Homo sapiens: one gene and its partners. The protein of the gene in region 1 purifies or fractionates together with the protein of each later gene. This does not show direct contact. Each region holds a gene or a part of one and is shown in the gene's direction. Other genes may lie near its edges. The genes, in order: UGGT2, HELLS, PARN, WDR7, DNASE2B, SERPINA4 and CELA3A.

Region 1 (3,500 bases):
TGGTATTGCCTAGGTTTTCTTCTAGAGTTTTTATGGTTTTAGATCTAACATTTAAGTCTTTAGTCCATCTTGAATTAATTTTTGTATAAGGTGTAAGGAAGGGATCCAGTTTCAGCTTTCTACATATGGCTAGCCAGTTTTTCCAGCACCATTTATTAAATAGGGAATCCTTTCCCCATTTCTTGTTTTTGTCAGATTTGTCAAAGATCAGATGGTTGTAGATGTGTGGTATTATTTCTGAGGGCTCTGCTCTGTTCCATTGGTCTATATCTCTATTTTGGCACCAGTACCATGGTGTTTTGGTTACTGTAGCCTTATAGTATAGTTTGAAGTCAGGTAGCGTGATGCCTCCAGCTTTGTTCTTTTTGCTTAGGATTGTCTTGGCAATGCGAGCTCTCTTTTGTATCCATATGAACTTTAAAGTAGTTTTTTCCAATTTTGTGAAGAAAGTCATTGGTAGCTTGATGGGGATGGCATTGAATCTATAAATTACCTTGGGCAGTATGGCCGTTTTCACGATACTGATTCTTCCTATCCATGAGCATGGAATATTCTTCCATTTGTTTGTGTCCTCTTTTATTTTTTTGAGCAGTGGTTTGTAGTTCTCTTTGAAGAGGTCCTTCACATCCCTTGTAAGTTGGATTCCTAGGTATTTTATTCTCTTTGAAGCAATTGTGAATGGGAGTTCACTCATGATTTGGCCCTCTGTTTGTCTGTTATTGGCATAGAGCAATGCTTGTGATTTTTGTACATTGATTTTGTATCCTGAGACTTTGCTGAAGTTGCTTATCAGCTTAAGGAGATTTTGGGCTGAGATGATGGGGTTTTCTAAATATACAATCATATCATCTGCCAACAGGGACAATTTGACTTCCTCTTTTCCTAATTGAATACCCTTTATTTCTTTCTCCTGCCTGATTGCCCTGGCCAGAACTTCCAACACTGTGTTGAATAGGAGTGGTGAGAGAGGGCATCCTTGTCTTGTGCCAGTTTTCAAAGGGAATGCTTCCAGATTTTGCCCATTCAGTATGATATTGGCTGCAGATTTGTCATAAATAGCTCTTATTATTTTGAGATATGTCCCATCAATACCTAATTTGAGAGTTTTTAGCATGAAGGGCTGTTGAATTTTGTCAAAGGCCTTTTCTGCATCTATTAAGATAATCATGTGGTTTTTGTCTTTGGTTCTGTTTATATGATGAATTATGTTTATTGATTTGCATATGTTGAAACAGCCTTGCATCCCAGGGATGAAGCCCACTTGATCATGGTGGATAAGCTTTTTGAGATGCTGCTGGATTTGGTTTGCCAGTATTTTATTGAGGTTTTTGCATTGATGTTCATCAGGGATATTGGTCTAAAATTCTCTTTTTTTGTTGTGTCTCTGCCAGGCTTTGGTATCAGGATGATGCTGGCCTTATAAAATGAGTTAGGGAGGATTCCCTTTTTTTGTATCAATTGGAATAGTTTAAGAAAGAATGGTACCAGCTCCTCTTTGTACCTTTGGTACAATTTGGCTGTGAATCTGTCTGGTCCTGGACTTTTTTTGTTTGGTAGGCTATTATTGCCTCAATTTCAGAGCCTGTTATTGGTGTATTCAGGGATTCAACTTCTTCCTGGTTTAGTCTTGGGAGGGTGTATGTGTACAGGAATTTATCCATTTCTTCTAGATTTTCTAGTTTATTTGCGTAGAGGTGTTTATAGTATTCTCTGATGGTAGTTTGGATTTCTGTGGGATTGGTAGTGATATCCCCTTTATCATTTTTTATTGCATCTATTTGATTCTTCTCTTTTCTTCTTTATTAGTCTTGCTAGCGGTCTATCAATTTTGTTGATCTTTTCAAAAAACCAGCTCCTGAATTCATTGATATTTTTTTGAATGGTTTTCTTGTGTCTCTATCTCCTTCAGTTTTGCTCTGATCTTAGTTATTTCTTGCCTTCTGCTAGCTTTTGAATGTGGTTGCTCCTGCTTCTCTAGTTCTTTTAATTTGATGTTAGGGTGTCAATTTTAGATCTTTCCTGCTTTCTCTTGTGGACATTTAGTGCTATAAATTTCCCTCTACACACTGCTTTAAATGTGTCCCAGAGATTCTGGTATGTTGTGTCTTTGTTCTTATTGGTTTCAAAGAACAGCTTTATTTCTGCCTTCATTTTGTTATGTACCCAGTAGTCATTCAGGAGCAGGTTGTTCAGTTTTCATGTAGTTGAGTGGTTATGAGTGAATTTCTTAATCTTGAGTTCTAGTTTGATTGCTGTTGTCTGAGAGACAGTATGTTATAATTTCTCTTCTTTTACATTTGCTGAGGAGTCCTTTACTTGCAACTATGTGGTCAATTTTGGAATAAGTGCGGTGTGGTGCTGAGAAGAACGTATATTCTGTTGATTTGGGGTGGAGAGTTCTGTAGATGTCTATTAGGTCTGCTTGGTGCAGAGCTGAGTTCAATTCCTGGATATCCTTGTTAACTTTCTGTCTCGTTGATCTGTCTAATGTTGACAGTGGGGTGTTAAAGTCTCCCATTATTATTGTGTGGGAGTCTAAATCTCTTTCTAGGTCTCTAAGGACTTGCTTTATGAATCTAGTTGCTCCTGTATTGGGTGCATATGTATTTAGGATAGTTAGCTCTTCTTGTTGAATTAATCCCTTTACCATTATGTAATGGCCTTCTTTGTCTCTTCTGATCTTTGTTGGTTTAAAGTCTGTTTTATCAGAGACTAGGATTGCAACCCCTGCTTTTTTTTGTTTCCCATTTGCTTGGTAGATCTTCCTCCATCCCTTTATTTTGAGCCTATGTGTGTCTCTCTCACATAGCAAGGAGCTGCGTTCCTTTGGAGGAGAAGAGGCACTCTGATTTTTAGAATTTGCAGCTTTTCTGCTCTGGTTTCTCCCCATCTTTGTGGTTTTATCTACCTTTGGTCTTTGATGATGGTGACGTACAGATGGGATTTTGGTGTGGATGTCCTTTCTGTTTGTTAGTTTTACTTCTAACAGTCAGGACCCTCAGCTGCAGGTCTGTTGGAGTTTGCTGGAGGTCCACTCCAGACCCTGTTTGCCTGGGTATCTACAGCAGAGGCTGCAGAACAGCAAATATTGCAGAACGGCAAATGTTGCTGTCTTATTGTTCCTCTGGAAGCTTCGTCTCAGAGGGGCACCCGGCTGTATGAGGTGTCAGTCGGCCCCTACTGGGAAGTGCCTCCCCATTAGGCTACTTGGGGTTCAGGGATCCACTTGAGGAGGCAGTCTGTCTGTTCTCAGATCTCAAACTCCGTGCTGGGAGAAGCACCACTCTCTTCAAAGCTGTCAGACAGGGACATATAAGTGTGCAGAAGTTTCTGCTGCCTTTTGTTCAGTTATGCCCTGACCCCCAGAGGTGGAGTCTACAGAGGCAGGCAGGCCTCCTGGAGCTGTGGTGGGCTCCACCCAGTTCAAGCTTCCAGACTGCTTTGTTTACCTACTCAAACCTCAGCAATGGCGGGTGCCCCTCCCCCAGCCTCACTGCTGC
Region 2 (2,406 bases), on another chromosome or scaffold:
CTCCCAAAGCACTGGGATTACAGGCATGAGCCACTGCACCAAGCCTAACGTGGTGATTTTTAGTATCCCTTGAAAGTGGCTGATAAGAACCATTATTAACTTAATCATTGCAAAATGGTGATTTTTCTTGTTCTGTCATTCTTTTATTAGCTGGGTTATTTAAGAACTTTCCCTTACAGTTTCCCTGAGATAGAAGAGAGCCAGGATATATTGCTTCTTTTTTTTTTTTTTATCAGTTTTTAGAATACCACCTTATGATCTGATGCCTACAGTGATGACCATGAATTATTTTGAAAACAAAAATAATATTTTGTACTTCATAATTTCCTAATTATTTTACAACATATTACTGTCGTCTAGGCTATTGATTATTTGTCTGTTGCATCTGTATGGTGGAGATACTGTATAATCTTTTTTTCCCAACTGTATTCCGTGACATTTTGGTCTTTTGAAATTGGTGATGGCAGTAACATTCATATCACGGATACAGGCAGAAACTAGAAACCCCAGTCTTTGTTTTTAACAAAAAAGGGTCTTGCTTTGTATTCCTGGCTAGAATGCAGGAGTGCGACTATAGCTCATTGCAGCCTAAAAGTCCTGGGCTCAAGGGATCCTCCAGCCTCAGCCTTTGGAGTAAGCTGGGATTATAGGCATGAGCCATTGTGCCTCAGTTTTTGTTTTTTTTGAGACCCAATTGTTAAACATTTACCTGCGTGGCACTGGCTACAGTGTCATGATATCTTATTTTCAAATATGTTGTTCATTTTAAAATTCAATTCTGTGTCTTATTGAATCAAAATAAAATATATTGGTTGGAAGTTTTTTTTTTTTTTTTTTTAATCAGATGTATTTTCCAAACATTTTCTTCTACTCTGGCCTGTCTCTTCACTTACTTACTTAGTATCTTCTGAAGAGCAAAAGTTTTAAATTTTAATGAATTTCAATTTTAACAAATTTTTTTCTGTTCACTCATGATTTTTATGTCATCTGTAACTACTCTTTGCCTAATTCAAGGTGTTGATATTTTCTTTTAATAGTTTTATAGTTTTTGCTCTTACATTTAGATCTATGATCTATTTTCAATGAATTTTCATCTTTTTGCATGTCAATATTAATTTGTTAAAAAGATGATCCTTTTTCTATTGGATGGCCTTGTCATCCTTGATGCAAATAATTTGATCATAAATATAAGGATTTATTTCTGTATTCTCAATTCTGTCCCATTGATCTCTGTGGTATTCCTATGCCAGTATCGCACTGATTTAATTAAGGTAGCTTTATGGGAAGTGTACTTTCTCTAGTTTTGTTCTTTTTCAAAATTGTTTTAGATATTCTGGATTATTTGCATGTTTATTTGAGTTTTAACTTTGAAATAGTTTAGGGAGAAATATGAGACATACAGCATCATGGTCAAATCTAAACTATATTAAAAAACAACATTATGTGAGGCATGTAAGGACTGTTTAACATCTGATAATATAATTCATATCAATTAAATAATGGAGAACTAGATGATCACCTAATTAGATACCAAAAACCAACTTGCCATAATATCGTAATCATCTTCATAATTTTTTTTTATTTGAGACAAAGTCTCGTTCTGTCACCGAGGCTGGAGTTCAGTGGTGTGATCATGGCTCACTGCAGCTTTAACCTGCTGGGCTCAATCAATCCCCACACCTCAGCCTCCCAAGTTGCTGGGACTGCAGGTGTGATTACTATGTCCTGCTAATTTTGTTTTGTGTATTTTGTAGAGACAGGGGTTTGCCATGTTGCTCAAGCTGGTCTCACACTCCTGGGCTCAAGTGATCTGTCTGCCTCATCCTCCTAAAGTGCTGGCATTATCGAAACTGCTTTTATTTGCAAGTGGTCTGGTTTGATTATCTTCATAGGAAGTCCAAGGGAATCCAGAATCTTTTAAAATAGAATTTAAGAAGATTGCTTATTAATAATATGTGTAACAGCAATAATTGTTTAATAATGAAGGTTTTTACAACAGCTACAAAATTAACATGCCTACAATTAAAGTTTAACAATTTTTAACATGTTTATATAAGGACAGAATTATGAAACATTGAAGGACGTTAATAGAAAGACTGAGTAAACATGCAGATTTAGCTGTATTTGTGGATATGAATGGTTACTACAAAGTGTAAGTCAGTGGTCCCCAAAACTAACTTATATTCTTGAATTTTTCTTCTAATTAAAATCCCAGAATGATGGCTGGGTGTGGTGGCTCATGCCTATAATCCTATCACTTTGGGAGGCTGAGGCAGGTGGATTGCCTGAGCTCAGGAGTTAGAGACCAGCCTGGGCAACACGGTGAAACCCTGTCTCTACTAAAATAGAAAAAATTAGCGGGGCATGGAGGCATGTGCCTATAATCCCAGCTACTCAGAAGGCTGA
Region 3 (3,500 bases), on another chromosome or scaffold:
CTTGACTCACCGCAACCTCTGCCTCCCAGGTTCAAGCGATTCTCCTGCCTCAGCCTCCAGAGTAGCTGGGATTACAGGCATGTGCCACCACGCCCGGCTAATTTTGTATTTTTAGTAGAGACAGGGTTTCTCCATGTTGGTCAGGCTGGTCTTGAACTCACGACCTCAGGTGATCTGCCCGCCTTGGCCTCCCAAAGTTCTGGGATTACAGGCGTGAGCCACCGCGCCCCGTCCCCATGGATTTTAATACCACCCGTGTCCCAATGATAACTAAATGTATATCTCAACACCTTTCTCTTGAGCTATAGGCTTGTAACTGCAGCTTTTAATTTGTGTATTCCCTTAGATGATTTAACATGTCCGTGGTAGGGCGCGGTGGCTCACGCCTGTAATCTCAGCACTTTTAGAGGCTGAGATGGGCAGATGACCTGAGGTCAGGAGTTCAAGATCAGCCTGGCCAACATGTTGAAACCTTGTCTCTACTAAAATACAAAAATTAGCTGGGTATGGTGGCGGGCGCCTGTAATCCCAGCAACTTGGGAGGCTGAGGCGGGAGAATTGCCTGAACCCGAGAGGTGGCGGTTGCAGTGAGCCGAGATCGTGCCATTGCACTCCAGCCTGGGTGACAGAGCAAGACTTCGTTCTAAAAAGAAAAAAAAGAAAAAAAAATAGTATGTCCAAAAGGTAGCTTTTGATTTTCACTCCTTGGACCCCGATACCTATTTTTCCCCTCATTGTCTTCACATCAGTTAGTGGCCCTACCATCTTCCCAATCGCTTGAACCAAATAGCAAGGTGTTTTTTTTATTTTTATTTTTATTTTTTTTTGAGACAGTGTCACACCGTCGCCAGGCTGAAGTGCGGTGGCACGATCTCGGCTCACTGTAACCTCTGCCTCCTGTGTTCAAGTGATTCTCCTGCCTTAGCCTCCCAAGTAGCTGGGACTACAGGCACACACCACCATGCCCAGCTAATTTTTGTATTTTTAGTAGAGACGGGGTTTCACCATGTTGGCCAGGCTGGTCTCCATCTTTTGAACTTGTGATCCGCCCGCCTCGGCCTCTCAAAGTGGTTGGATTATAGGCGTGAGCCACCATGCCCGGCCGCAAGGTGTTACTCTTGATTTTGCCTTTCCCTTTATCCTTCATCTCCAGGATATCAGTAAGTGTTACGTCTTATGTCTAGAAAATCACTGTCTCCTTCTACCCTGCCATCTCTACACCAGGGTTACAAACAAGAGCCCACTGCTGGCTCCTTGTTTTGTAAATAAGATTTGTTGGACTACAGCTATGCCCGTACATGTACATTTTGTGTATGGCTGCTTTTGTGCCACAACAGCAGGGTTGAGTATTGCGACAGAGACCCCCATTGCCCACAAGCCTAAAACATTTGCCATCGAGCCCTTTAAGAAAGAGTTTGCTGGCCGTGCGCGGTGGCCGTGGCTCCCGCCTGTAATCCCAGCACTTTGGAAGGCTGAGGCAGGCGGTGAGGTCTGGAGTTCGAAACCAGCCTGGCCAACATAGCGAAACCCTGTCTCTACCGAAAATACAAAAATTAGCCTGGTGTGATGGTGCACGCTTGTAATTCCAGCTACTCGGGAGGCTGAGACAGAAGAATTGCTTGAACCTGGGAGGCAGAGGTTGCAGTGAGCTCATATTGTGCCATTGCATGCCAGCCTGGGTGACAGAGTAAGACTGTCTCACAACAAAACAAAACAAAGAAAAAGTTTGCTGACCTCTGATCTGAGCTCTTGTCTCTTGCCTGGACAATTGCTCCTGACTTGTTTCCTAACTTCACTCTCAGAGTAGTCATCATGGCCTTTGAAACATTATGCAGGTAAGGTAATTATCTTGCTTAAAATCTTCTAATGTTGTCCAGCCACTGTTAGAATAATGTACATTTCTTACACTGGCCTGTGAGGGCCTGCAGAATCTTGCTCCATACTCTCTCCAATGTGATGCTGTACCATTCCATTTTTGCTCATGACATCTGGCCACACCAGCTCCTTGCTGCTCCTGGAACCGTCCAAGCCATTTCCATGTTCTGGGTATTAATACTTGTTTCCCCTACCCGAAGGACTCTTCCCCTAGCTCCTTTCGTATCCGACTTATTCTCATCCTTTGGGTTTTCCCTGACTTTCCTGATTTTCTTGTCAGAAGTAGTTCCCTTCACTACAGAGCAGGATGCATCAGCTTGTCACTGTTCATTCCCCAGTGCCTAATATAATGCTTTGGCACAGCATAAGTGCCAGATAAATATTTCTTGAAAGAAGACTGAATGAATGGATGAATGATAAACACATTTCAAAATCATTTGCCTTTCTGTTCATTTTTTGAGATGTAGTTAAATATGGTAAATCTTTCCTGAGTAATTTAGACTCTTTGGTTTGTTAAACAAATTTTATGTTAGACAGTTACTTCTGCTAATGCATTCTTTTTAAAATCGTGTTTAGGAATTCCATATTTAAATCAGGAAGAAGAAAGACAGTTAAGAGAGCAGTATGATGAAAAACGTTCACAGGCGAATGGTGCAGGAGCTCTGTCCTATGTATCTCCTAACACTTCAAAATGTCCTGTCACGATTCCTGAGGATCAAAAGAAGTTTATTGACCAAGTGGTGTAAGTTCCTAAATTAAAACTAAGCGTGCATTGTGTGCTATATATTGGGGATGACAGGCATCTATATCTCAAACCTGTGCTTTACAAACATAGTACACACACGGGTGTGATGTTGTGAATGGCAGGATATAATTGTGGCATATTAAAAAAAAAATTTTTTTTTTTTTTTTTTTGAGACAGTCTTGCTCTTTTGCCCAGGCTGGAGTGCATTGGTGCAATCCTGGCTTACTGCAACCTCTGCCTCCTAGGTTCAAGCAATTCTTGTGCCTCAGCCTCCAGAGTAGCTGGGATTATAGGCGTGCACCACCACACCCGCCTAATTTTTATATTTTTAGTAGAGACGAGGTTTTGCCATGTTGGCCACGCTGGTCTCGAACTCCTGGCCTCAAGTGATCTGCCCGCCTCAGCCTCTCAAAGTGTTGAGATTACAGGCATGAGCCAGCATGCCTAGCCGGCATATTCAAATTAGTGTAACAGCAACAAATTGTAAATAGAGTTCCATGTATTGTACTTGGACTTGCTACATGTCACTAGGCAAGAGATTTCAGTACGTGGTCAGACCTGCGTGGATTTTTTATTTTATTTTATTTTTTTTAATAGAGACGGATCTCACTATGTTTCCCAGGCTGGTGTCAAACTCCTGAGCTCAAGGGATCTTCCTGCCTCAGCCTCCCAGAGCGCTGGGATTACAGGCGTGAGCCATTGTCCAGCCCCTTTTCTTGTTTTTTAAATGCTAATCAGCTGACTTCTAAAACTTGCATGGACTGAATACCTGACAGCCACTGTCCAATGTCCTTGAAGGCAGAGGAGTGGATCAGGCTTATCCAGCCTGTAGCATGTCCATGTTCTCTTTGCTTGCAGTAAAGGTGCCGACAAGCAGATG
Region 4 (3,500 bases), on another chromosome or scaffold:
CAATTAAAAATTTTAGTCTGGGCGACATAGTGAGACCCCATCTCTACAAAAAAAAAAATTAGCATGGTGTGGTGGTACACGCCTGTAGTCCCAGCTACTTGGGAGGCTGAAGTGGGAAGATCCTTTGAGCTGGGAGGTGGAGGCTGCAGTGAGCTGTGATCGTGCCACTGCACTCCAGCCTGGGCAACATGGCGAGACCCTGTCTCAAAAGCAAAAAAAATTCAGTAAGTAAAGTCAAACGATTGGTTATGCTTAATATGTGTAGTTTCCATTGGCTAATGCTTTTAGCTGTTAATTACTGTATTTGATTAACCAGTATTTGAATACAGTAATTAGACTATTAACTATAATTGTCAAAACTGAAGTCAAATTTAATATTGCTTTTCAGGCTAAGATTCTGTTCTTTAATATTCCAGTATTTGTGAAGTAATCCTCCGAATTTTAGTAGAAGTCCACCACACTATTTAGTATTTTCAGATAGTACTTCATTGAAGGCACAAAATCTTGAGCTGAAAATGAAAGTACACATAAGATCCTAATGAATGGTTTTTGTTCCTGGTAGCTGGTAGCTAACAGAGGCTAGGTTCAAATTGATTATGAAAATATGAGCAAGTAAAACATGATATGCTATTAGTTGAAAAATATACTAATTTTAACAATGGGGTCCTCTAGTTGCACAAGCTTGATAGTTCAATTTTGTTGGTTTTTTTTTTTGTTTTTTTTTTTTTTTTGAGATGGAGTCGCCCTTTGACTCCCAGGCTGGAGTGCAGTGGTGTGATCTCGGCTCACTGCAACCTTTGCTTCCTGGGTTCAAGCGATTCTCCTGCCTCAGCCTCCCGAGTAGCTGGGATTACAGGCACGCACCACCACACCTGGCTAATTTTTGTATTTTTATTAGAGACAGGGTTTCACCATGTTGGCCAGGCTGGTCTTGAACTTTTGGCCTCAAGTGATCTGCCCGCTGCAGCCTCCCAAAGTGCTGGCATTACAGGCATGAGCCACTGTGGCCAGCCTACTTTTTGTTTTTTTGAGGCAAGGTCTTGCTGTGTCATCCAGGCTGGAGTGCAGTAGCGAAATGATAGTTCACTGTAGCTTCAAACTCCTGGACTCAAGTGATGCTCCCACCACAGCCTCCTGAATACCTGGAGCTATGAGCCTGTGCCACCATGCTGGGCTAAGTTTTTTTTTTTTTCCTGTAGAGACAGGATTTCGCTTAGTTGTCCAGGGCCGGTCTCTGACTCCTGGCCTCAAGCGATCTTCCGTGTCATTGTTGGGATTACAAGCATGAGCCACTGTTCCCTAATTTTGTTGCTATTCTTAATGATTAATCAGGAGTGGGCAAAAAAAGCAGGAATAGTGAGTTCTCTCATCTTGACCTTTTAAGTGAAGACTTTTCTTTTTGATAAAGCTTAGCTATGTGTTAATTATTTAATAATAGGCAGTTAAATTGCATTATTGTGGCTACACATGAGTTATTATAAAGTGGTGAAAAGTAGCATAAATGCTAACTTTAGAGAAAGGCTGTAAATACAGTTTTTGTTTCATTCAATGTGTGTGTTATACTAGATTAGAATATTAGTTGACATGTATGTTAGTGCTATAGAATTACATTAAAATATTGTTGAATAATCATGCTATAAACACTTTTTCAACTTGGCTACTGGGACAAATTACCTAATATCTTTGTTTGAAAAGCATTAATGTGTGAAATATTTTGATTAAAAATACAGCTAAAGATATTCAAATACTTTTTTTGGCAGTTGCTAATTTGTCCTCCTGTTACTCGGTTCTTCTATGGATGCAGAGAATATTTCCATAAACTGTTAATTCAGGGTGATTCTTCTGGAAGGTTGAATATTTGGAACATATCAGACACAGCTGATAAACAGGGAAGTGAAGAAGGTAATAGTAAATCATGTGTAACAATTTCTTAATTAATTTAATATCTTAAATACCAACTACTGAATAACATTCATAATGTACATATATCATTTTCTTTGATTACTGGATCAATCAACATTATTTTAATGTTTTAAATTTTTTTTAACATGCACAAATGTTTTTCTTTTATACAAAACCAAACCTCTACAGGGCTGGCAATGACAACTTCTATTAGTTTGCAAGAGGCATTTGATAAACTGAATCCTTGTCCTGCTGGAATTATAGATCAGCTGAGTGTGATTCCCAATAGTAATGAACCTCTTAAAGTAACTGCAAGTGTGTACATACCAGCACATGGACGACTTGTTTGTGGTCGTGAAGATGGAAGCATAGTTATTGTACCTGCCACACAGACGGCCATAGTACAGCTGTTGCAAGGGGAACACATGCTCAGAAGAGGTATACTGAAGAGCTCCGTATGTCTAAAGTGTTTTGACAACTCTTACCCAGAGAGTGAAAATGTCTCTGTTTTTTGTTTTTAAATAAATACAGTGAATCAGTGTAGTTAGTTGTTGGGGTGCTATGTAGTTGGTAGAGTTTAATGCACAGATAAAATATTCAGTGCCTGTTATTAGAATTAATACAATGTAATGACTGTAAATAAAGAAGTATCCAATTTTATCTCTTTGAGATATGTTAATAGTTTCATCTCTTAGTTATCTCTATGGATTACTAAATAATTACTGTATTACCAGTAATTCTGAAAATCCTCCAGAACAGTACCATCCAATAGAAATCTTTTTTTTTTTTTTTTCCGAGAAAGAGTCTCACTGTGTTGCTCAGACTAGAGTGCAGTGGCATGATCTCGGCTCACTACAATCTCTGCCTCCTGAGTTCAAGCAGTTCTCCTGCACAGCCCCCCAAGTAGCTGGGATTATAGGCATGTGCCACCACACCCAGCTAATTTTTGTATTTTTTGTAGGGACAGTTTCACCATGTTGGCCAGGCTGGTCTCGAACTCCTGACCTCAAGTGATCTGCCTGCCTCGGCCTCTCAACAGCCAGTGGAAATCGAATGTCAACCATATATATATAACCATACCTGTAATTTCCTAATAGCTGTGTTAAAAAATAAAATGAAACAGTTGAAATTGACTATATTTTATATAACCCAATATAGCAAAAACTATTTTCATTTCAACTTCTAATCAATATGAAGATTGTTGATGAAATATTTTAGGTTTTTTGTATCAACTCTTCAAAATCTCATGACTAGTTTAAATTCACAGCACATAGGAATCTGGATTACCCCCATTTCAAGTGCTCAGTAGTCTCATGTGGCTAGTAGATACTGAATTAGGCAGAGTTGTGTTAGAAGATAAAATTGGAAGCCTTTGCTGTGATATAATTTGTAGCTATTCTAAACATTCATGTTTACTTTTACTTACTGAAACTTGGTAAACCTTTAATTTTCCCATTTTAAATCCAAACCCTCATTCACAGGTTGGCCACCTCACAGAACACTCCGTGGTCATCGGAACAAAGTCACATGTTTGCTATATCCTCATCAGGTCTCAGCTCGGTATGATCAAAGATACCTGATATCTGGAGGTGTGGATT
Region 5 (3,500 bases), on another chromosome or scaffold:
TGTGAATTACAGCAGAAAGTATGGACACACCAAAGGTATGACAAAGATTCTTGGTTTCTCTTTCCTACTGGAAATCAACAATTTCTTAAATATTTCATCTTGAGTATCCTTATATTCCATACTAAATAGATAGCCTTTCTTCTTAATAGTTTATTTGAGTTATTGAAATGTATGACTTCTATATCACTGGTTATAATATAATTATATGATTTGACTTGGCAATCTCATTTTTAGAAATCCCATTTTATTTCTTAACATATTTTAAAATATTTGCTTTGCAGCAGCAGGAATCCAGGTACTGATACTGAGGACACACACACACACCAGCAATTTTATATATATATATATATATATGCACATGAATATGTATATATGTATATGTGCATGTAGTATATATGTACAAACACATTTTAGTCAGATTTATTGAAGTATGATTTATAGAGAGTAAAACGAGCTCTTCTTAACATACAGTTCCCTTGGAAATATACATTTTTGAAAAAGTATTTTAAATAGCTTTTTATATTAATTTTTATCATGTTATTTACATTATCACATATAATTTTTATTATCCTTTCACAATTTTTTTATTTCTAAACTTTGCATATGTGTTTGTGAACTACAGAAAAATTCAAAATACAGGTAAACAAAAAAATCTATAATCCTAATGCCCATTAGATAAACCATATTTAATCCTTTCTACTTTTTCTAAAATACATATTTTAAAACATTTTTACAAAACTACTGTAATGACTATTTTTCAACCTTTTTTCAATTTCATATATCATAAATAACTTTCCATGGCAACAAGTATTCAGAAGATTCCAAATTCAAATGCCTTCAAGGGAGCAGGCAAATGATGTCAGCAAGTGAAAGGAGGCAGTTACTATTCAACTTGCCTGATACGGACACAATTTTCCAGGAGATGTTGAAAATTAATATTTGTGGAAAAACTCCCCAGTTTTTAAATGTTGGCACTAAATTCAAAGTTTAAAAAATACTCTGCAAGCGCAATAAAATGTATCCACAGGCTGGATTTGGCTCAGAGGATGTCAGTTTGCAGCCTCTGATTTAGAATATAGTTTGTAATGGCTGACAAAGGTCATGAACTTTGAAAGCTTTTTATTTAGCAAAGTTGCTCTCCTGAATACCCTATTTACTGGGAACCCAACAATTTTCATAACATGCTACATTCTTCAACCTCTCCTCCAACAATCTCCCACACTATTCCTGCTCTACCCTGCTAACTGCCACAAGGCTTTGGGGAAATGGCTCTAAAGAAGTAGGGCACAATATCAAGTGGAGGGGTTCTCTTGGCCAACAGATGCCCTAATATCCTATGGCATTTGTACCAGGAGGATAGGATTCCAGCAAATTGGCACACTCATCTGCACAGAGGATAACTCTTGAAGGTTATCCAGTTCTGTTACACACAGAACTTTCAATATTTTCCACCTTGACACAGGTATTGATTCTATTTCCACCCAAAGAACAACAGTATGCTTTCTTAAAATAGGCACTTTGAAAAAAAAATAACTAGAAGGCATTTGGTTTTTAATCTAACACTTAGGCAAACACGAGTGAATCTTATGTTTGCATAGTCATATGCAAACTGGAAAGTCTAGCTATCATACCAAACCTACCATGATAAATTTCTAAACACAAAAATAGTCAGATGTCTGTTTTACAAAGTTCTTTTTGGTATGTCACAAAATGATAAAAATCTTTCTATTTTCTTCCTTATTGGCTTTCAAGTTGTTTATTTTGCTCTAGAGATTTTTACAAACGTAATTAACTAGGATGCTTTAGCACAGCTTCCTTTTTGTCTCTTTGCTTCTTTTATTGGGCTTGTAGAAATAGTGACTCTTCTGCCAATAAATGGGCAGCAGTTTTTTATAACAAATTATTGTGAGTACATTTCTTCATTTGATATTTTCTCTTTCAACTCTGTTTTTTAGTCAGCTTTTGAAAAGAGCCTAGCTGCTTAGCAGTGAAGACACTATCTAAATCTTGCTAGGTGACTGTATAGTTTAACAAGGTCCAATTCCAATTTAGCAAATTTGCATTCTGCCAAAACAAATTTTCCTTGTGATTTCAAAATGAAATTCCTCTTAACTCTTCACAGGATGGCTACCTTGGTTCCCTTTTCGTGGTGGCTTTTTATCAGTAATCAGGCAATGTGATATGTGCCAGAATTGTATTTGAAATCTTTGAAAAATAAGCATGATCCTTGTGATTATTAGCCTAATAAAACACTAGTCTGAAGCATAAATGGGCTTAAATGTTGCCACTGTGAACCCTATTATAAAAGAAGCTTTGTTTTTCTGATTTATCTTTGTTAAATGTGTCTTTGGTAGGTTTACTGCTGTGGAACAGAGTTCAAGGGTTCTGGCTGATTCATTCCATCCCTCAGTTTCCTCCAATTCCGGAAGAAGGCTATGATTATCCACCCACAGGGAGACGAAATGGACAAAGTGGCATCTGCATAACTTTCAAGTACAACCAGTATGAGGCAATAGGTAAAACTAAAGTATGTGAGAAAAAAAACGATAACTATGTTGAAGAAATGATTTGGAAATATATTCATAAATGTGTCACTTCATTTGTTAATCTATTCATAGACCCTCTGATACCTAGATTCTAATACTGGCTTTGCCATGGTGAGGTCTTGGGCAGGCTCGCTTACTGGGCTTTGGCTCTTAATCTACCAGTGCAGTTGTTGAACTTGATCAGGGCAGTAGTTTCAAATGTATTCAGGGGCCTGGTAGATAACATATATGAGTGAAACAGACATGTTACATGGGAAGTGAGGATAGTGATGAACTGGGGTGTTGACTCACCTAGCTTCCCTTAAAGCCTCAGTTCCATCATACTGTGGCTCTACAGGAATACAAGCCTAATGATTACAGATCTCCTTATTTCTCATGAAGTACCAGAAACCTAGGGTGTGTGTGTGTGTGTGTGTGTGTGTGTGTGTGTGTGTGTGTGTGTGTGTGTGTGTGTCAGAGAGAGAGAGAGAGAGAGAGAAACTGATTTCCAAATATGAGTTCAATCTTAATTTTGTTTTTGAAGTTTTCCAGGCCACATGTTCCTTGTAGGCCACAAACATGACACCTCTGAGCCAGATAATCTCCTTTTAAGATTTCAAGCTCAGCGAAAAATTCTTAGATTTGGCAAACTGTGGTGGGAAAGGAGAAGTAGGGACAGGTTGGTAGCTAAATAGTAGTGAAAAGCAACTTGCCTATAGAAACAGGAGATTTAGAAAATGTTTCTCATCAAATTTCCATCTTATGGCAAGGATCACTGAGCTCCTCACCCAAGTCAAGCTCTAGTCTCACTAGTTGAAATCATGTAATGATGCCGAATATCACAGAGATTAGGCATGCACACTGAGGAGATGATGATTCTTAAAGCTTTTTGGTACATGGAGTTCTCAACTTTTGTATATGTATATGTACATTTAGAAGAAAAAATATATGGTCTCCAAGGCCAAATTACCTGGG
Region 6 (2,982 bases), on another chromosome or scaffold:
ACAGGTCAGCTTGTTTGCTCAAAGCAGGGATAAGACAAGTCTCTAATTCAAAGGTTGGCTTTGAGGATCAAATGATTAACCCATGTATATACTCCTTAGAAAAGGGTCTAAAGAGATGGGCAAACTACAGCCCATGGGCCAAATGTGTTCAGCCACTGGTTTTGTAAATAAAGTTTTATTGGCACACAGCCAGGCCCATTCATTTATGTATTGTCTGTGGCTGACTTCATGCTACAATGGCAGGTTGATTCATTACTGCAGAGATTGAATGATCTGCAATGCCTAAAATAGTTAATATCTCTATAAACCTTTTGGTTTGTTGACCCCTGACCATTTTATGTACTCAATAAATAGCAACTATAATTCATCTAATGATAACAATGCTCATTTTGAAGCTTTAAAAATATGTAAAAGCATAAAGGAGAAAGTAGACATAATCTCTAGTCCTACCACTCAGAGGCAACAAATGTTAATGTTTTAGCATCTTTTCTTCACCTTCCATTCACACACATATATGTCCACACAGTTGATTTTGCAGTGTGCAAACAACTTTGTACGGTGTGTATTAGCCAGGGTTTCATCAGAGAAGGAGAGCCACCTCAAGTCAATGGTAAGGAGATCATTATAGGAATTAGGCCCCACACAATTGCGACTGGGAAAGTGAAGGTCTAGAGGAAAGAAGAGTTGGAAGGACAGAGAGAAAGTTGCCAATGTAAGCGGACAAGTCAGAGCTTAGAGGGGAATCTATATGCCAGGCTCAACCAGCCATCAGAGTGCTGCCATGGAGGGGAGCATCACTGCATAGTTTCTGTGGTAGCCTGGGGCTGCTGTTGTTTAGTGGGGTTAGACTTGGGAAATGAGCTTGGAGACAAGCAGGGCAAACTGGAGCACACAGAGCACTGCTGAGTCTGACCATCATCATATCTGACTACCAGGGCCTTCAGAGGGCAATCTACTTCGAAATCTCACAGTTCTAACCAGCTTGAACCCAAAATCTACAGGGAACAAAATTCTAGGGAGCAACTCCCAGCCTAATGATTCAGCCAAATTAGTCATCCCATGTAATTTGCATGTGGAATTTTCATGAACCATTGAAAAGTTTTTTTAAAAAAGCTTTGTTTTGAGGCTGGGCATAGTGGCTCACACCTGTAATTCCAGCACTTTGGGAGGCCAAGGCAGGTGGATATTGAAATCAGAAGTTCAAGACCAGCCCGGCCAACATGGCAAAACCCTGTCTCTACTAAAAATACAAAAAAAAAAAAAAAAATTAGCCAGGCTTCATGGCACATGCCTGTAATCCCAGCCACTTGGGAGGCTGAGGCAGGAGAATCGCTTGAACCCAGGAAGTGGAGGTTGCTGAGATTTTGCCACCACACTCTGGTCTGGGTGACAGAATGAGACTCTATCTCCAAAAAAAAGTTTTGCTTTGAAATAACAAAACTTTTAAACTTTAAAAAAAAAATTAACTAAGGAAGGAAGAGAAACAGTAGTATGGGTTTCACTGTCAGGAAGACATTGGTTAGAATCCCAGATCCCTTGCTATTCCCTGGACTAAAATTCCTGGCATGGAGGCCTTAGTCCATTCACCCTACCTGCCACCACCTCACTGCACATCGCCTCCTGTATTTGCTTCCCTCCTCACACTGCAGCGATTCCATGGCCATCATTGTGGTCACTTCCTTGCAAACACTCTGAACTCTTAACTTCCTTGGTTTTCCCTCCCTCTATCATACTTACCCTCCAAAGCTGCAAACCTGCTTAAACCTAAAGGTCTAACTAGTCTACATCTGCACCCAGCAGCTGAATGTGGTTGAAGAAAAACATCCAACGGGGCTGATGGTCTCACTTGATATTTGTGAATGCAAATTTTCATTGATATCTCTACACTGTCCAGCAATCCTACCTACATATCTCCACTCTCCAAAACAACTATAATAACAGATTCGTCCTTCTCAAATGTCCTCCCCACTCATGACTTTCACTTAACAATCTTGTCTCACTTTTCATTGAGAAAACAGAATCAGTTAAACAGGAAATCTCTCATCTTCTCACCTCCAAATCTACTCACCTCCAAATCTTCTCACCTCCAAATCTACTCGCCTCCCTGCATTTGAACCCACAAGCTCAGATGCCCTCCTCTCATCATGGCAGTAGTGACCCACCTCTTATGGAAGGCTGACCCCTCTGCTCACACTCTGCCATCTCCTCTCTCCTTCTCAAGGATGCTCACCTAACAATGAAACTCTCTTTCCAGCACCCCTTGTTTCTTCTCTATCAATCCTACTCACATATTAGAAAACGAACATCCTCTGCTATCTCTCATTTTAAAATTTAAATGAGGCCTAAAGGATCCATTCCCCAGGCATGTCAGGTTTTGAATGGTCAAAATGGGACATCTTGATGGGCTCATAGGGCAGGATCTGGAGCGACTGTTTCTGTAGCTCAGAACACCAGATGGCATTCCCTGGCTGGAGGACTAGCTCTGTGGCCTGCAGATGTCCTGTACCTTCTTTTCATCTTCCCTTCAGCCCTGTGGGAGAAACCATTCATTTCCTCAAGGACCACTCCCAAAGACTTCTATGTTGATGAGAACACAACAGTCCGGGTGCCCATGATGCTGCAGGACCAGGAGCATCACTGGTATCTTCATGACAGATACTTGCCCTGCTCGGTGCTACGGATGGATTACAAAGGAGACGCAACCGTGTTTTTCATTCTCCCTAACCAAGGCAAAATGAGGGAGATTGAAGAGGTTCTGACTCCAGAGATGCTAATGAGGTGGAACAACTTGTTGCGGAAGAGGTAATCAGTGTGCTATGGGGGCTGAATCTACAGTACTATCCATCAAATGTAACTTTCTAATGAAAGACAGTGCCCCAAAATAGAGAGTGAACACCAAATTATGAGAGAATTCTCACTTGCTCTGAGAACTTCCATGGGCTTCCTTTAAATGATGAACTCTCCTGTTATATTTAAAATATG
Region 7 (3,500 bases), on another chromosome or scaffold:
GTGCCCCACTGTCCACAGTTTGCTAACCCTGGTCTAGATGGAGCTTTTGAAAATCAGAATGTGTAGGAAATGGGAAGAGAGGCAAAGAACTCATCAGGGTGAGCTGTGCTTCAGAAGGCTCAAGAGGCCTTGAAAGAGCTGAGGTTCAAAAGAGTCAGGGGGGCTGGGCGCGGTGGCTCACGCCTGTAATCCCAGCACTTCGGGAGGCCGAGGTGGGCAGATCACCTGAGGTGAGGAGCTCGAGACCAGCCTGGCCAACATGGTGAAACTCCGTGTCTACTAAAAATACAAAATTAGCCAGGCACGACGGCAGGTGCCTGTAATCCCGGTTACTGTGGAGGCTGAGACAGGAGAATCGCTTGAACCCGGGAGGCGGAGGTTGAAATGAGCTGAGATTGCCACCATTGCACTCCAGCCTGGGGAACAAGAGCAAAACTCCATCTCAAAAAAAAAAAAAACTCACAGGGCGAGGGGTGCGTGATAGAACAGAGGGCCTTCAAGGGCTGTTAAGAGACAGAAGGTAGAGAATGTTGGGGTCCCCAGGGAGGTCATAGTGCTGGTGTGGGGAGGCTTTGGAGAATCAGAATGTGACCCCCATGGAAAAGTGATAGGGCCACCACGGGCAGCTGCCCAGGTCGCAGGTTGTATGCTGCATATTTCAGTGGGTGCTCTCGTTTTCCATGTGAATGGCGCCCTCTAGAGTTGCACAGTGCACAACCTATACAGCCATTGGTGGCAACTCTCATGGTGGGGCCCAGCCCACTGAGGCCCTTTCCTCCTGGGCCACCAGGTTTCCCTGCAGTATGAGAAAAGTGGAAGCTTCTACCACACGTGTGGCGGTAGCCTCATCGCCCCCGATTGGGTTGTGACTGCCGGCCACTGCATCTCGTGAGTTCTCTACCCTGTCCCTGCCTGTGGCCCTGGGCAGCGGGGGAGAGTGGGTGATGATGGGGAAGGAGGGAGGTGAGCCAGTCAGGCCCCGACTGACCTCACCTCTGCCTGCAGGAGGGATCTGACCTACCAGGTGGTGTTGGGTGAGTACAACCTTGCTGTGAAGGAGGGCCCCGAGCAGGTGATCCCCATCAACTCTGAGGAGCTGTTTGTGCATCCACTCTGGAACCGCTCGTGTGTGGCCTGTGGGTGAGTGAATGCTCCGGTCTGGAACCCAGGGGCTCCTCTACTTGTCCCTCCATGACCCACAGCCAAGTCTGAGTAGGCTCCAACTCTGAGTAGGGACGTAGGGACATAGGGACATAGGGACAGGGGAGCTGAGTCCAGCAGCCTGTGCCCAGGTCCCACACACTGAGGATTGAAGCCAGCAGAGCCTTTAAGGACCATCACCACCAAACCTGTCTCCCTACAGAGGGGATGGCAGTGTTCAGGGAGGGGCAGGAACTCTGCCAAGGCCACTTGGCTAGTGGCTTCAGAGCTCAGGGTTCCTCTGGCATCCTTCCCCCATATCCGAGGGTTTCTCCATTCAATAGATGGCTCACCCAGTGCATCCTGGGCTCCCAGCACTATGGGCAAAAGGAGGAGCACTGGGCTGAGAGTCAGGCTCTGGCATTAACTCTGTGTATGGCCTGAGCAAGTCACTGGCCTTCTCTGGGCCTTAGTTTTGCCATTTGTCAAAAGGTGACCATGAAGTTGGGCTTCCTGGGTGGTGTGAAGGCCAAGGAGACAATCTTATGCCTTTCAAGTGTATGAAAAAATCTTAACAAATATTAGCCAGGCGTGGTGGCATGAGCCTGTAATCCCAGCTACTGGAAAGGCTGAGGCAGGAGAATCACTTGAACTCGGGAGGCGGAGGCTGCAGTGAGCCAAGATCATGCCACTGCACTCCAGCCTGGGCAACAGAGCGAGACTCTGACTCAAAAATAAATAAATGAATAAATAAAATTCCTCAGCCTTAAGAACGATTTGGGCCAGGTATAGTGGCTCATGCCTGTAATTCCAGCACTTCAGGAGGTGAAAGCAGGAGGATCCCTTGGCCCAGGAGGCTGCAGTGAGCTATGATTGTGACACTGCACTCCAGCCTGGGCAACAGACCGAGACTCTGTCTCAATAATAATAATAATAATAATAATAATGATGATGAAAGAGTGGATTTGGAGGGTAAAGAAGTTGGGGCATCTCAGAGGTGGAATAGCCTGGAGCAACGGCTAGAAGGTAGGACTTGGGCCGGCTGGAGGACCAGGCCCCGTGACTGTTCCCTCCTCCCCAGCAATGACATCGCCCTCATCAAGCTCTCACGCAGCGCCCAGCTGGGAGATGCCGTCCAGCTCGCCTCACTCCCTCCCGCTGGTGACATCCTTCCCAACAAGACACCCTGCTACATCACCGGCTGGGGCCGTCTCTATAGTACGTGCTGACTTCTCTAGCTGGCCACAGAGACAGTGGCAGAAAGACAGGGCCTGGGGGCTGCAGGTTGAAGGTAACACCAAGACCGGACCTTGTACTTTTCTCCCATTTCTCTCCAGCTGCAGCCTTCTTCCATCAACCTCCAAAACACGAATGTGGTCAATTGCACATGTTTTGGTATCTTCTGTGTGCCACGTGCTAGGGATGTAATGGTGCACAAAGCATGCAGGACCATTTAGCGGGTGGGAGGAGAGTCCTCATCAGGGCAGAAGAACTGTGGGCCTTGAATGCCCCCTTCCTCTGGGGCACCTAGCGGTGTGCCCCCAGACCCCTGACTCGGTGCTTTTTATCCTTGCAGCCAATGGGCCACTCCCAGACAAGCTGCAGCAGGCCCGGCTGCCCGTGGTGGACTATAAGCACTGCTCCAGGTGGAACTGGTGGGGTTCCACCGTGAAGAAAACCATGGTGTGTGCTGGAGGGTACATCCGCTCCGGCTGCAACGTGAGTCAGCTCTTACCTGCCCGAGGTGGTGCTGGGTGTGCAGGACCTTGGAATGGGGCCAACTGCCTGGAAGGTGGAGGAAGGATCTTGCCTGCTTGCCCCATTCAGCCTCCAGGCCAGGCAGGACTTGGAGGAAATCAGCGCAGTCCAGACACAGAGCCCAGGCCTGGGAGTCAGGACCCCCGGGTTGCAGTCTCAGCTCACACACTGACATGACTTGGGACAAGTCACTGTGTCTCCCTGGTCCTCAGGCTTCCGCATCAGCACAGCAGGAGATACTGGTCCCATGACCTCTAACGCAGGTCAATTCTGTGGTTCTAAAGTTATAATTAACCATTAAGAATACCATCATTGTTCTGGGCACAGTCCCTCCTGCCTATAATCCAAGTGCTTTGGGAGGCTGAGGTGGGAGGATTGCTTGAGGCTAGGAGTTTGAGACCAGCCTAGGTAATATAGTGAGATGCCCATCTACAGAAAAACTTTTTTTACTTAGTCAGGCATGGTGGCACTCGCCTGTAGTCCCAACTACTTGATAGGCTGAGGTGGGAGGATTGTTTGAGCCTGGGAGTTCAAGCTCACAGTGGCTATGATTTTTGCCACTGCACCCAAGCCTGGCGACACAGCAAGACGTTGTCTCTTTT

Evidence for each region.
Region 2: the proteins of UGGT2 (region 1) and HELLS purify together in Homo sapiens (affinity purification with mass spectrometry; one large-scale study listed by BioGRID and IntAct). This does not show direct contact.
Region 3: the proteins of UGGT2 (region 1) and PARN purify together in Homo sapiens (affinity purification with mass spectrometry; one large-scale study listed by BioGRID and IntAct). This does not show direct contact.
Region 4: the proteins of UGGT2 (region 1) and WDR7 purify together in Homo sapiens (affinity purification with mass spectrometry; one large-scale study listed by BioGRID and IntAct). This does not show direct contact.
Region 5: the proteins of UGGT2 (region 1) and DNASE2B purify together in Homo sapiens (co-immunoprecipitation; one large-scale study listed by IntAct). This does not show direct contact.
Region 6: the proteins of UGGT2 (region 1) and SERPINA4 purify together in Homo sapiens (co-immunoprecipitation; one large-scale study listed by IntAct). This does not show direct contact.
Region 7: the proteins of UGGT2 (region 1) and CELA3A purify together in Homo sapiens (co-immunoprecipitation; one large-scale study listed by IntAct). This does not show direct contact.

Annotation. Positions count from the first base shown.
Region 1 is NC_000013.11:96,046,902-96,050,401, reverse strand, and holds part of UGGT2 (UDP-glucose:glycoprotein glucosyltransferase 2 precursor), read left to right. Parts: intron 1-3,500. UniProt on the Homo sapiens protein: Recognizes glycoproteins with minor folding defects. Reglucosylates single N-glycans near the misfolded part of the protein, thus providing quality control for protein folding in the endoplasmic reticulum.
Region 2 is NC_000010.11:94,597,788-94,600,193, forward strand, and holds part of HELLS (lymphoid-specific helicase), read left to right. Parts: intron 1-2,406. UniProt on the Homo sapiens protein: Plays an essential role in normal development and survival. Involved in regulation of the expansion or survival of lymphoid cells. Required for de novo or maintenance DNA methylation. May control silencing of the imprinted CDKN1C gene through DNA methylation.
Region 3 is NC_000016.10:14,609,761-14,613,260, reverse strand, and holds part of PARN (poly(A)-specific ribonuclease PARN), read left to right. Parts: intron 1-2,451; coding exon 2,452-2,617; intron 2,618-3,500. UniProt on the Homo sapiens protein: 3'-exoribonuclease that has a preference for poly(A) tails of mRNAs, thereby efficiently degrading poly(A) tails.
Region 4 is NC_000018.10:56,692,859-56,696,358, forward strand, and holds part of WDR7 (WD repeat-containing protein 7), read left to right. Parts: intron 1-1,760; coding exon 1,761-1,902; intron 1,903-2,091; coding exon 2,092-2,340; intron 2,341-3,383; coding exon 3,384-3,500.
Region 5 is NC_000001.11:84,408,484-84,411,983, forward strand, and holds part of DNASE2B (deoxyribonuclease-2-beta isoform 1 precursor), read left to right. Parts: coding exon 1-35; intron 36-2,354; coding exon 2,355-2,516; exon of another isoform or gene 2,517-2,527; intron 2,528-3,500. UniProt on the Homo sapiens protein: Hydrolyzes DNA under acidic conditions. Does not require divalent cations for activity. Participates in the degradation of nuclear DNA during lens cell differentiation.
Region 6 is NC_000014.9:94,564,442-94,567,423, forward strand, and holds part of SERPINA4 (kallistatin isoform 2 precursor), read left to right. Parts: intron 1-2,528; coding exon 2,529-2,802; intron 2,803-2,982. UniProt on the Homo sapiens protein: Inhibits human amidolytic and kininogenase activities of tissue kallikrein.
Region 7 is NC_000001.11:22,004,657-22,008,156, forward strand, and holds part of CELA3A (chymotrypsin-like elastase family member 3A preproprotein), read left to right. Parts: intron 1-790; coding exon 791-888; intron 889-1,005; coding exon 1,006-1,140; intron 1,141-2,221; coding exon 2,222-2,358; intron 2,359-2,716; coding exon 2,717-2,859; intron 2,860-3,500. UniProt on the Homo sapiens protein: Efficient protease with alanine specificity but only little elastolytic activity.